Homo sapiens: one gene and its partners. The protein of the gene in region 1 interacts with the protein of each later gene in a biochemical or structural test. Each region holds a gene or a part of one and is shown in the gene's direction. Other genes may lie near its edges.

The links.
Region 2: of the proteins of MAFA (region 1) and HERC4, one has a biochemical effect on the other in vitro, tested with the Homo sapiens proteins (one study listed by BioGRID).
Region 3: the proteins of MAFA (region 1) and PDX1 form a complex in vitro, tested with the Homo sapiens proteins (one study listed by BioGRID).

Annotation. Positions count from the first base shown.
Region 1 is NC_000008.11:143,428,742-143,432,561, reverse strand, and holds the start of MAFA (transcription factor MafA), read left to right. Parts: upstream 1-1,829; 5' UTR 1,830-2,155; coding exon 2,156-3,217; 3' UTR 3,218-3,820. UniProt on the Homo sapiens protein: Transcription factor that activates insulin gene expression. Acts synergistically with NEUROD1/BETA2 and PDX1. Binds the insulin enhancer C1/RIPE3b element. Binds to consensus TRE-type MARE 5'-TGCTGACTCAGCA-3' DNA sequence.
Region 2 is NC_000010.11:67,921,684-67,925,283, reverse strand, and holds the end of HERC4 (probable E3 ubiquitin-protein ligase HERC4), read left to right. Parts: intron 1-96; coding exon 97-199; intron 200-2,144; coding exon 2,145-2,353; 3' UTR 2,354-3,379; downstream 3,380-3,600. UniProt on the Homo sapiens protein: Probable E3 ubiquitin-protein ligase involved in either protein trafficking or in the distribution of cellular structures. Required for spermatozoon maturation and fertility, and for the removal of the cytoplasmic droplet of the spermatozoon.
Region 3 is NC_000013.11:27,917,830-27,921,649, forward strand, and holds the start of PDX1 (pancreas/duodenum homeobox protein 1), read left to right. Parts: upstream 1-2,170; 5' UTR 2,171-2,309; coding exon 2,310-2,715; intron 2,716-3,820. UniProt on the Homo sapiens protein: Activates insulin, somatostatin, glucokinase, islet amyloid polypeptide and glucose transporter type 2 gene transcription. Particularly involved in glucose-dependent regulation of insulin gene transcription.

The DNA of each region.
Region 1 (3,820 bases):
TTTCCTCCTCAACCCCCTTTCCAGTGTGCCCCAGGGCCTCCAGGGTGTGGTACCCAGAAATGCTGCTAGACCCTTGGAGGGGCCGTGGGAGGGCCCTGTAGCCCCAAGGCCTCTCCTGGGGCTGCAGGTGCAGACAACCTGGACTACCACCAGCTCCACTGCGCGGCGGCATCCTCCCTTCCCGGGCCTCCCTCTCAACACGGGGTGCCATAAAGGAAACCCCACACCCCTGGCTGGCTGACCACTCGTGTGGTCTCAAGTCCAGGTACCCAGTGTGGGGACTTGGCTCTGCTGCATGCCCACTTCATTTCTTCATCTGTAGAAGGGTGGGGAGCTCAGAGCCCCCTCTGGGACAGGATCGGGGGAGAGGGGTCCCTGCAGGTGGGTCCTCATGCTGTCCTTGGCCCTCCCTTGCGGGGAGGAAGGCCTGGTCTTCCCAAATCAGCAGTCCCAGCTCTGCCCAGAGGAGTGGGAGGGCCCAGGGAAGGGCCAGGGACACCCCGAGACACCTTAGGAAGCAGATGTTCAGTCCTCACTTCATGACAGTCTTCTTGTTACAAAACAATAGATCTTTGTAGAGGGAAGGAGGTGAGAGCCTGGTACTAAATCTGCGGCGCCGTGACCAGGCCTCCCTGTGGCCTCTGCGCAACTCCTTCCAGGCTTTTTTTCTCTACACAGGTGGTTACATTTTAGACTTTTTTTTTTTTTTTTTAAATTGCTGAAGTCATAGAACAGCAATGGAGAGAATTTCGAGAAGAAACAATAGGCCCACTTCGGGTCACCGGCCTTGTAACTCCTGGCGCAACCCTCCCATCACCCGGCTCGCTGGTGTCGGGGACCTGGGGTCACAGGCCCACCGCCCATCGTCACCTCCTTTGCCCCGTGAACCGGAGCCGTCTCCTCCCAGCAGGTGCACGGCCGCCAGGTGGAAATCCCCGCCTTCCCGTCTCAGTTACCCCCCGTCCCACTCCAGGCCCAGCAAGGCGCCTCCAGCCCTGCGGGGGGCGAAAGTGGGCAGTGGTGGCCGCTTGGGCGGGGATTCCTAACGCCCTGAGGGGCTGCCAGCCCGTGGGCCCCGCCCCCGCCGCTCGCACCCACCCGCGTTGTCCCGCGACCCCCACAGTCCTGCGCTCTCCGCGGCCCCCCACAAGCCGGCCCTCCGTCCCCGGCCCCTCGCGCCGCCCCGCACGCGTGTGTCCCCCTCCGCCCGCCCCGTGCTTCCCGGTGCCCGGAGGTGCCGGCAACTTTGTTGACCAAATTCCTGAACGCGTCTGAGCCGCGGGCTAAAAATAACCGGCTCAGCGCGCCGCGCTCTGCCGGGCCGCGCGGTGTCACCCGTGTCCAGAGGCCCGGAGGTCCCGCTGCCGCCGCCGCCGCCGCTAGCGGAGCTGCCCCCGGCCCCCAGGCCCGGCCGCAAACCCAGGGGGCCGAGGGGGCGTCCCGCCGCGTGGCCCGAGGCGGACGAGGCCCCGAGGGGGTCCCCGGGCGCGGTCCCCGTCTGCTTCCCCGGACTCTCCGGCCGCCGGGTGTGGGAGCTGAGGCCCCTGGAGACGGCAGTTGTCCCCTGAGGCGGCGCGCCCTCTGCCCGTGCAGTGCCCCGTGATGGCCACCAGAGGGCCCTGCCCTCTCCTCTAGCCGGCGGCCCGTCCCTACCTCTTCCCACAGCTGTTTCCCGCAGGAGATTGACAGCTGGGCTCTGAGTTGCCATGGGGATAAGCAAATGAGGGCGGCGGGGCTGGGGCTCCGATTGGCCCGGGGGCGCGCGCCCCTCCCGGGGAGGCGGGCCCAGGCACCCGGCTCTATAAAGGGGCGCGCGCGGCTTCGCGTTTAGCCGTGGGAGGCGGGGCCGGCCGGCGGCGCGGGTGGGGCGCGGGAGCGGTCCCGGAGCAGCCCGAGGCGGCGGCCGCGGGGAGGAGGCGGCGACGCGGGCCCGGGGTCGCCCGAGACACCTGGCCAGCGGTGCCCCTAGCGCGCCGCCCCGGAGTTGACCACGTGAAACTTTTCCCTGCGCCCCTCGGCGCCGCCGCCCCGCGCCGGCGCCCCCCCGCCCCCGCCGGGACCGCCGCCCGCGGGGAGCAGGGGGGGGAGAGGCCTGCAGCTCCCCCCCCACTCCCACGCCGCCCGTCGGGGCGCGGCCGGGCGCGGGCCCCGGGCGATGGCCGCGGAGCTGGCGATGGGCGCCGAGCTGCCCAGCAGCCCGCTGGCCATCGAGTACGTCAACGACTTCGACCTGATGAAGTTCGAGGTGAAGAAGGAGCCTCCCGAGGCCGAGCGCTTCTGCCACCGCCTGCCGCCAGGCTCGCTGTCCTCGACGCCGCTCAGCACGCCCTGCTCCTCCGTGCCCTCCTCGCCCAGCTTCTGCGCGCCCAGCCCGGGCACCGGCGGCGGCGGCGGCGCGGGGGGCGGCGGCGGCTCGTCTCAGGCCGGGGGCGCCCCCGGGCCGCCGAGCGGGGGCCCCGGCGCCGTCGGGGGCACCTCGGGGAAGCCGGCGCTGGAGGATCTGTACTGGATGAGCGGCTACCAGCATCACCTCAACCCCGAGGCGCTCAACCTGACGCCCGAGGACGCGGTGGAGGCGCTCATCGGCAGCGGCCACCACGGCGCGCACCACGGCGCGCACCACCCGGCGGCCGCCGCAGCCTACGAGGCTTTCCGCGGCCCGGGCTTCGCGGGCGGCGGCGGAGCGGACGACATGGGCGCCGGCCACCACCACGGCGCGCACCACGCCGCCCACCATCACCACGCCGCCCACCACCACCACCACCACCACCACCACCATGGCGGCGCGGGACACGGCGGTGGCGCGGGCCACCACGTGCGCCTGGAGGAGCGCTTCTCCGACGACCAGCTGGTGTCCATGTCGGTGCGCGAGCTGAACCGGCAGCTCCGCGGCTTCAGCAAGGAGGAGGTCATCCGGCTCAAGCAGAAGCGGCGCACGCTCAAGAACCGCGGCTACGCGCAGTCCTGCCGCTTCAAGCGGGTGCAGCAGCGGCACATTCTGGAGAGCGAGAAGTGCCAACTCCAGAGCCAGGTGGAGCAGCTGAAGCTGGAGGTGGGGCGCCTGGCCAAAGAGCGGGACCTGTACAAGGAGAAATACGAGAAGCTGGCGGGCCGGGGCGGCCCCGGGAGCGCGGGCGGGGCCGGTTTCCCGCGGGAGCCTTCGCCGCCGCAGGCCGGTCCCGGCGGGGCCAAGGGCACGGCCGACTTCTTCCTGTAGGCGCCGGACCCCGAGCCCGCGCCGCCGTCGCCGGGGACAAGTTCGCGCAGGCCTCTCGGGGCCTCGGCTCGGACTCCGCGGTACAGGACGTGGACACCAGGCCCGGCCCGGCCGTGCTGGCCCCGGTGCCAAGTCTGCGGGCGCGGGGCTGGAGGCCCCTTCGCTCCCGGTCCCCGTTCGCGCGCGTCGGCCCGGGTCGCCGTCCTGAGGTTGAGCGGAGAACGGTGATTTCTAAGGAAACTTGAGCCAGGTCTAACTTCTTTCCAAGCGTCCGCTTGTACATACGTTGAACGTGGTTCTCCGTTCCCACCTTCGCCCTGCCAGCCTAGAGGGACCGCGCTGCCGTCCCTTCCCGGGTGGCCCCTGCCTGCCCCCGCCCTCCTTCGTTCTCTTCTCAGCCTCCCTTTCCTTGCCTTTTTTAACTTCCCCTCCCCGTTTTAAAATCGGTCTTATTTTCGAAGTATTTATAATTATTATGCTTGGTGATTAGAAAAGAAAACCTTGGAGGAAGCCCCTTCTTTCCCCAGCCGGGGTCCGCCCTCAGTCGCGAGTCACAGCATGAGTCGCTCGCCAGGAGGGGCCCGGCCCCTGCCTGCCCCCTCC
Region 2 (3,600 bases), on another chromosome or scaffold:
GCACAAGTTGCAAACTACTGGACCATGTTAGCTTTATGTGCTAATATATTAGCCAGTGTGTCCCTTAATACTAATAAAAGATTATGTTGTTTTTAGAATACAGAATACAAAGGGGAATATTGGGCAGAACATCCTACGATAAAAATTTTTTGGGAAGTATTTCACGAATTACCATTGGAAAAGAAGAAACAGTTTCTGTGTAAGTATTTCTAACTAGTTGTATACTTTATGAGACTGGAATCTAATTATAGTATTATTCCAAAGCCCTGTTTTAATCTTCAAGTAATTTTTTTGAAACAGAACTATCTGCACTCTTCAGTACATGTATTTTCTTATTTCAAAGGCTAAATTCAGTTTGCCTTCAAAATAGCATTGATTCATTCTATGAAGTAAAATGGAAGCTAACTTGGAAATGAAAGCAAACTATAGCTATGTTATAGTTACAATAAACTGTGGTTACAATAAACTAGGATTGTAGAATTCCTTTTAGATTTCTAAAAAGATCTCTGGAGTATAGTCATCCTTTGGCATACATGGGGGATTGATTCCAAGACCTCCCTGCCAAGGATACCCAAATCCAGTAGATGCTCAAGTTTCTTGTATAAATTGGCATAGTATTTGCATATAACCTACACATATCCTTATACTTTAAATCTTCTCTAGATTACAGTCATGTGCCACATAATGACTTTTCAGTGAATGACAGACCATATATACGATAGTGGTCCTGTAAGATTATAATACAGCTACTGTACCTTTTCTATGTTTAGATACACAAATACCTACTGTTATGTTACAGTTACCTACAGAATTCAGTACAGTAACATGCTGTACAGGTTTGTAGCCTAGGAGCAATAGGGCTATATCATGTAGCCTAGGTGTGTAGTAGACTATATACTGTCTAGGTTGTGTAAATATATGATGTTTACAGAATGAAATCACCTAATGATGCATTTCTCAGAACATATCATCATCGTTAAGTGACACATGAATGTACATGTTATTAATACCTCATACAATGTAAATGCTATGTAAATAGTTGTTATACTGTATTGTTGAGGGACCAATGTCAAGAAAAACAGTTGACACATTCAGTACAGTCACAAGCATCCATTTTTTGAAAATATTTTCGATTTGCAGTCGGTTCAATCCATGGATACAGAGCTCACAGATACGGAGGGCCAACTGTATTGCTCTTTTCTCTGTTTGGTCTTCATTTTCTTTTTCTTTTTCTTTTTGCTTCAAGACTAAAACTTTGGCAATTTCTATATAAAATAAAGCTTTTTCAGGCCTTAGTTCCCTCATTTATAACTGATGCCTGTGTATCTTTCTTCTGTTAAAGTCTGTATTCTAATTGAAATTTGACTTATTTTTAAAGTTGTCAGAATTTATGTGTCCAAATCGGTGACATTTCCTTTGATACTCCTGCTTTTGCCAGGAATGATTTGGCAACCTCCGAGAATCTTGGTCAAATTCTTCTGTGTGTCATAAGGATGAGAAATCATTACTCTTTAAGAGTGATTTGAGCCTGGGCAACATGGCAAAACCTCATCTCTATAAAAATTAGCCCTGGGCTTGGTGACTGTGCTCCCAGCTACTCCAGAAGCTGAGGTAGAGAGGATTGCTTGAGCCCAGGAGGTCGAGGCTGCTGTGACTGTGACCGCACACTGCACTCCAGCCTGGGCAACTGAGCAAGACTCGTCTCAAAAAAAAAAGAATGATTTGAATTTTGGCTGCCCATTATAAATTTCTGATTTAAAAAAAATAACAGAAACGAAGCAAATAGAAAAAGAAATCATAATCAAAACTGCATTTTGTATTTGGTTTGTCAACTAGTTCTGAATGGCTTTTCCAAAAAAGGGCTCTCAAAATGTTTTGGCAATGGCAAAATACTCACTTATCAAACATTTATTAAGCACTTCCTTTGTGCCAGTATTAAGATTATACTTTTAAAGAAAAAATATTGTGTGGATGAGCAATTAGAATGTGTCTCAAAAAACTTGTCTTCCACAAATTAGGAAGTAAGATAACACGTTAGAGCAGATGTTAAAGTGAAGCTCTGCTGTAGCGACTGTACCAAATATTACTTGCTACTGTATCTTTTTGTTTTGAAGTGGTTGACTGAATGATTTCTTTCTTGGCAGTATTTTTGACAGGTAGTGATCGCATTCCTATTCTTGGTATGAAGAGTCTGAAACTAGTCATCCAGTCCACAGGAGGTGGTGAGGAGTATCTCCCAGTTTCCCATACTTGTTTTAATCTTCTGGATCTTCCAAAATATACAGAAAAAGAAACTCTACGCTCTAAACTGATCCAAGCTATTGATCACAATGAAGGCTTCAGTTTAATATAACTTTGGAGTTATAACTATTCAGTTTAGTGCAAAAGCATTAAACTATTTGTGTTTTTCTTGTGGTGATGAATTCAGCAAGGTGACAGAGGTACTATTATAATTCTTACTTGCAGAATGTTCAATCTACGAGTGTTCATGGAAGCCAAAAAATATTAAAGGAAAATGAACAAACTGTTAATATTATTGTACAGAACCATGGATTTTTTTTGACCATCTTCTAATAAACATAGCAAGTATTATGAATACATTAAAGTTTTACTAACATGAATTTTAAGAGTTTGCATATTTCAGAAATGATCTGGTGTGAGTGCATGGAAATATTGCTTAATTTTTCTTCAATCATTGAGTGAAAAACCTTTAACTTTGGCCTGCAATAGTCATTTGATTATTTTTTCATTTTGTAAATAATGTTAAGTTTTGTAATAAAATAGTTATGTTCTGATACCAGTACAGTTTCTATGGTTGTAATTGAACTTGAACAGACTTTTAAAGGTTAAAAATTATGATTTAAATCTTACTCTGAGACTCTATAAAAAGAAAAAAAAGGTAGCATGGTGGAAACACTATCTTTTCTTTTTTGCTAGAATAAGTGTCTTTGTGCAAACCTAAATCACAGATAGGGAATATACTACATAACCTGCAGTTCTTTTCTTTGTGAATCCTGACACACTGATAGATGGGGGATTGTCGATCAGAGAACTTATTAATATTTAGTACTGGAAGAACTCTGTCTCCACAGTTGCCAGTAATAAAAAGAAACATTGGCTACTATGAGCACCAATCACTGGGTTATAGCTTTCAAAATTATTGATGCTGCAGTGCTTTAGAGCTATTTCCTTGAATTTAAGAAACAAATCTTAACAGTTTTATGGTGCTGATGCTTAGTTGTCTCATGCCATTAAATTGTAAAAGTGAGTTGATGCAATACATGTGACTTTCTGCTATAATGCAAATATTTATTTTTTAAATTTATTTTAAAATGCCGTGAAAACTGTTTAATAAAGATTTATTGTTTTAATATTTAAACTTTCAGTGGTTCTCATATAAGAGTCAAAATTTTTCAAAAAGAGGGATGGTTCAGGGAAGGTCTCTTAAATTTCGGATGACTTGTTTCTATTCCTACATGAATTTATAGAGGTCCACAGTCTCTTAACCTGCAATTCTAAAATTTAAAAAAACTGAAAAGAATATTGTCATCTCTCACTTTGCAGAAAAACCTGATCTGAATTGTTGAAGCTATTTATGGT
Region 3 (3,820 bases), on another chromosome or scaffold:
TGCAGGGCCGAGCAAAAATATTAAATGGAAGCAAATGAAGCATCGAAATGGAGACCAATTTACAGAAATGTGCAATTAGTTGAGAAGTGCAAAGTAAACACTCCGGGGGTGGCAGGCGAGGCAGGGAGCAGGGGAGGGAGAGTGGGGCGCAGACTGAGTCCAGAGTGGGTGTAGGGGTGCCCAGGGAGGAGGGGAAGGGGGAGGAAAAGGAGGGGGAGGGGAAAAGTGGCCGATCTTTGTCCTGAGCGGAGCTTGCCGTCCGCTCATAACCGCGTCGCCAAGTCAACCCTCGGCGACTCGGCAGATTATCTCCAAGGGTCAACACGCCGCGGCCAGGCAACCCCCTCCAGCCTGCCCTCCTGATCGATGTGGTCACTCGCGGCCAGGGTGATAGGGTAGAGTTCTCCGCGGCCGCAGACAATGGACTCATTGACGCGGGCGCACAGAGATTAGGTGCCCGGGCCCCACGGCCTTTCACTCTCTGCCCCCACCAAAACTGCAGGTGGCACTTTTCCCTGAAGAAATCACCGAAACTCTCCCCGCCCGCCGCCGTGCTTCCCTTGGCCTGTCTTCGGTGACAGCAAGGGCATCTACAAGCCAGGGAGCCACACATCAGAGCCACACACATGAGGCCACAGGCCAGGAAGCCACACACATGAGTTCTCACACATCGAAGCAAATGCTGAGACTATACCGGCCTCCCGCAAGAGAAGGAATCTGCAGAGAAGTCCACATTCCCGACTGGCTTTTTTGTCTTTTAATAAAAATAAAGAGTCCTCAGAATAGAGCACTCAATCCGCACTTAAAACACAAATATTTCCAGTAGGAAGAAAGAAATACATTAAGATTGACTCTCAAAGGTCTGGATGTTGGTGCGTTGTTTAGGAAAGGCGGAGCAGTGATTTTTCTCTGGCTTGGTTCTTTGTGGTTCAAGCTCTCTCTTGCTGAGACGTTTCTGCAAAGCTGTCTAGTTTTTCTAAAACCCACGGTGGCGTTTCGAGAAACGTCCTCATTTCGGGAGTATCCAGTCAGAGGCTGGTCAGGCCGCCAGGCCTAGCGGATCATGCCCAGGCAGGGGGTTGGACGTCACCGCCACCCGGAGGTCATCCATCCGCGTCAGTGGGTGCAGAAAAAGTGGCCCTGTTTAAGTCAGGACCCCAGAATGCCCAGAAGTTACTGAATGGTTTGAAGCCAAGCACAGATGTTATCATGGAAAATGCAGCGTTTTTATTTCTTTTTCTAAATATGTAACTCTTCCTCCACTTCCCCCTCTCCTGCTTGCCTTATTTCAATTGCAAGCAGAAGAGAGTGAGTGTTCTCTGCCGGCAAACTCCGCCAGGGTCCCGGCCCGTAGAGAGTCGTCAAGGGTCTGGAACCCCCGTGCCAACACCTGCCCCTGCTTCGCAGCCCCAAGAGGAAGGCCGCGTCTTTCCCCCTCGCTGTATTGGGAAGCTACGTTCCGGGCTGGCCAAATGGGCCCCAATTTTCCAAAACCCAAATTTGTAATACCCTTCAATTTTTTAAAAAAAAGAATTTAAAAAAGTCTCTGTGAATGCTTCAGAAGTTACCGTTTACACCCCAGAAGTACTTGCAGCACATCCACAAGTAAAAACACACAACGAATGCCAGAGTTTCGTGTGTTTTTTAACCGACATCTTTGTGGCTGTGAACAAACTTCATAAATAAAATAGAATCAAATGCTTCTGACCTAGAGAGCTGGGTCTGCAAACTTTTTTTTTATCGTATTCCGCAACAGTTAAATAAAAAATTAAAAACTCAACATGTCTCCTTGTAAACTACATCAATTAACAAACACACTATGTCCATTATCAAATATAATAGAAAAAATATAGGAAAATAGAAAATAGAAAAATATAGGAAAATAGAAACTTTTAAGCCACGGTGAAAATGTTTCTATAAATGAGTGGTTCTAATGTTTTCGTGAGCGCCCATTTTGGGGAGCACCGCCAGCTGCCCGTTCAGGAGTGTGCAGCAAACTCAGCTGAGAGAGAAAATTGGAACAAAAGCAGGTGCTCGCGGGTACCTGGGCCTAGCCTCTTAGTGCGGCCAGCCAGGCCAATCACGGCCCCCGGCTGAACCACGTGGGGCCCCGCGGAGCCTATGGTGCGGCGGCCGGCCCGCCGGTCCGCGCTGGCTGTGGGTTCCCTCTGAGATCAGTGCGGAGCTGTCAAAGCGAGCAGGGGTGGCGCCGGGAGTGGGAACGCCACACAGTGCCAAATCCCCGGCTCCAGCTCCCGACTCCCGGCTCCCGGCTCCCGGCTCCCGGTGCCCAATCCCGGGCCGCAGCCATGAACGGCGAGGAGCAGTACTACGCGGCCACGCAGCTTTACAAGGACCCATGCGCGTTCCAGCGAGGCCCGGCGCCGGAGTTCAGCGCCAGCCCCCCTGCGTGCCTGTACATGGGCCGCCAGCCCCCGCCGCCGCCGCCGCACCCGTTCCCTGGCGCCCTGGGCGCGCTGGAGCAGGGCAGCCCCCCGGACATCTCCCCGTACGAGGTGCCCCCCCTCGCCGACGACCCCGCGGTGGCGCACCTTCACCACCACCTCCCGGCTCAGCTCGCGCTCCCCCACCCGCCCGCCGGGCCCTTCCCGGAGGGAGCCGAGCCGGGCGTCCTGGAGGAGCCCAACCGCGTCCAGCTGCCTTTCCCATGGATGAAGTCTACCAAAGCTCACGCGTGGAAAGGCCAGTGGGCAGGTAAGCCTGGCTCCCCACCCCTTTCTCCTTTCCGGTTCTCACCCGGCCGCCTTACCTCCAAGCGCTCCCAGGAGCCTTCTCTCTGTTCCCGGCGCCTTGGATTATCCCGGGTCGGACTAAACTACATCAGGGAGCTACCGAGCCCATCCCTCACAGCAGTGCTTCTCTAGTCCAGTTTGAAGCATCTTTCCCACCCAGCTCTCCTGGGAGTGTACACTCCTTCCTTCCCTGTTCGCTGAGCCCATCTTCGCCCCAGGAGCCCGCGCTCCCAGCGCCATCCTTAGAGAGCCGAGGCTGAGTCCTGCTCAGGGCTTCGGACACTACAGATCCTCCTCCAGCAGGGGATCCGGGAACCCAGGACTCCTTGGTAGTGCACATCGAGGAAGCCGAGTAGGGACATGGGTGCCTCGGACCCAGGCCCCAGATCGCCTTCGGAGCCCCGGAGCCCCTCACTTCCCGCGCTTCGTTAAGGAAGGGCAGGCATCTAGGGGCGCCAGGTAGGTGCAGAAAGGCAGGGAGGGAAAGGAAACTGCACCCAACCCAGCAGTGTCCGGCTGCCCTGGTTGTGGAAACAGGATAGGAGTAAAGAGGAAGGGGCTGGGGCAAGGCGGGGGCTCACCGCGAGGCTGAAAGCCGGCCTCTCAACGTCAGAGCCTGGCAGCTAGGAGAGCAATCTGAGAAGCGAATTCGTTTTTCACCAACCGAAAGCAATTGAAGCTGTCTCCCCGCACCGCTTCCCAGGAAGTAATTTTTCAGGAGATGGGCGCTCCCTGCCTAGCTGGTGGGGAGGCGAGAGGCCTGGTTCCTGCGGCCCTCCGCGCCGGCAGAGAACAGAAGGTCTTTCCCGGAGCCGGGAGCCGGAGGCACGGGGTAGCCCCCGGGTCCTTTGCGGCCCCGCGCGAGCGGCAAGTTCCGGCGCGGCCTGTGTCGTCGCCGCTACTCACTGTCATCGCTGCCGTGCCTCAGCCACTTCTGGTCACACCTGCACCGCAAATAGTTGCCTTTTCCTTTCAACTGGCAGCCGGGAGTAGGGGGAAGCAGCTCGAGCCGGCGTCCCCCGGCCCACCCCGAAAATCCTCAGCGCCCATCTGCGGGGTCTGGCCAG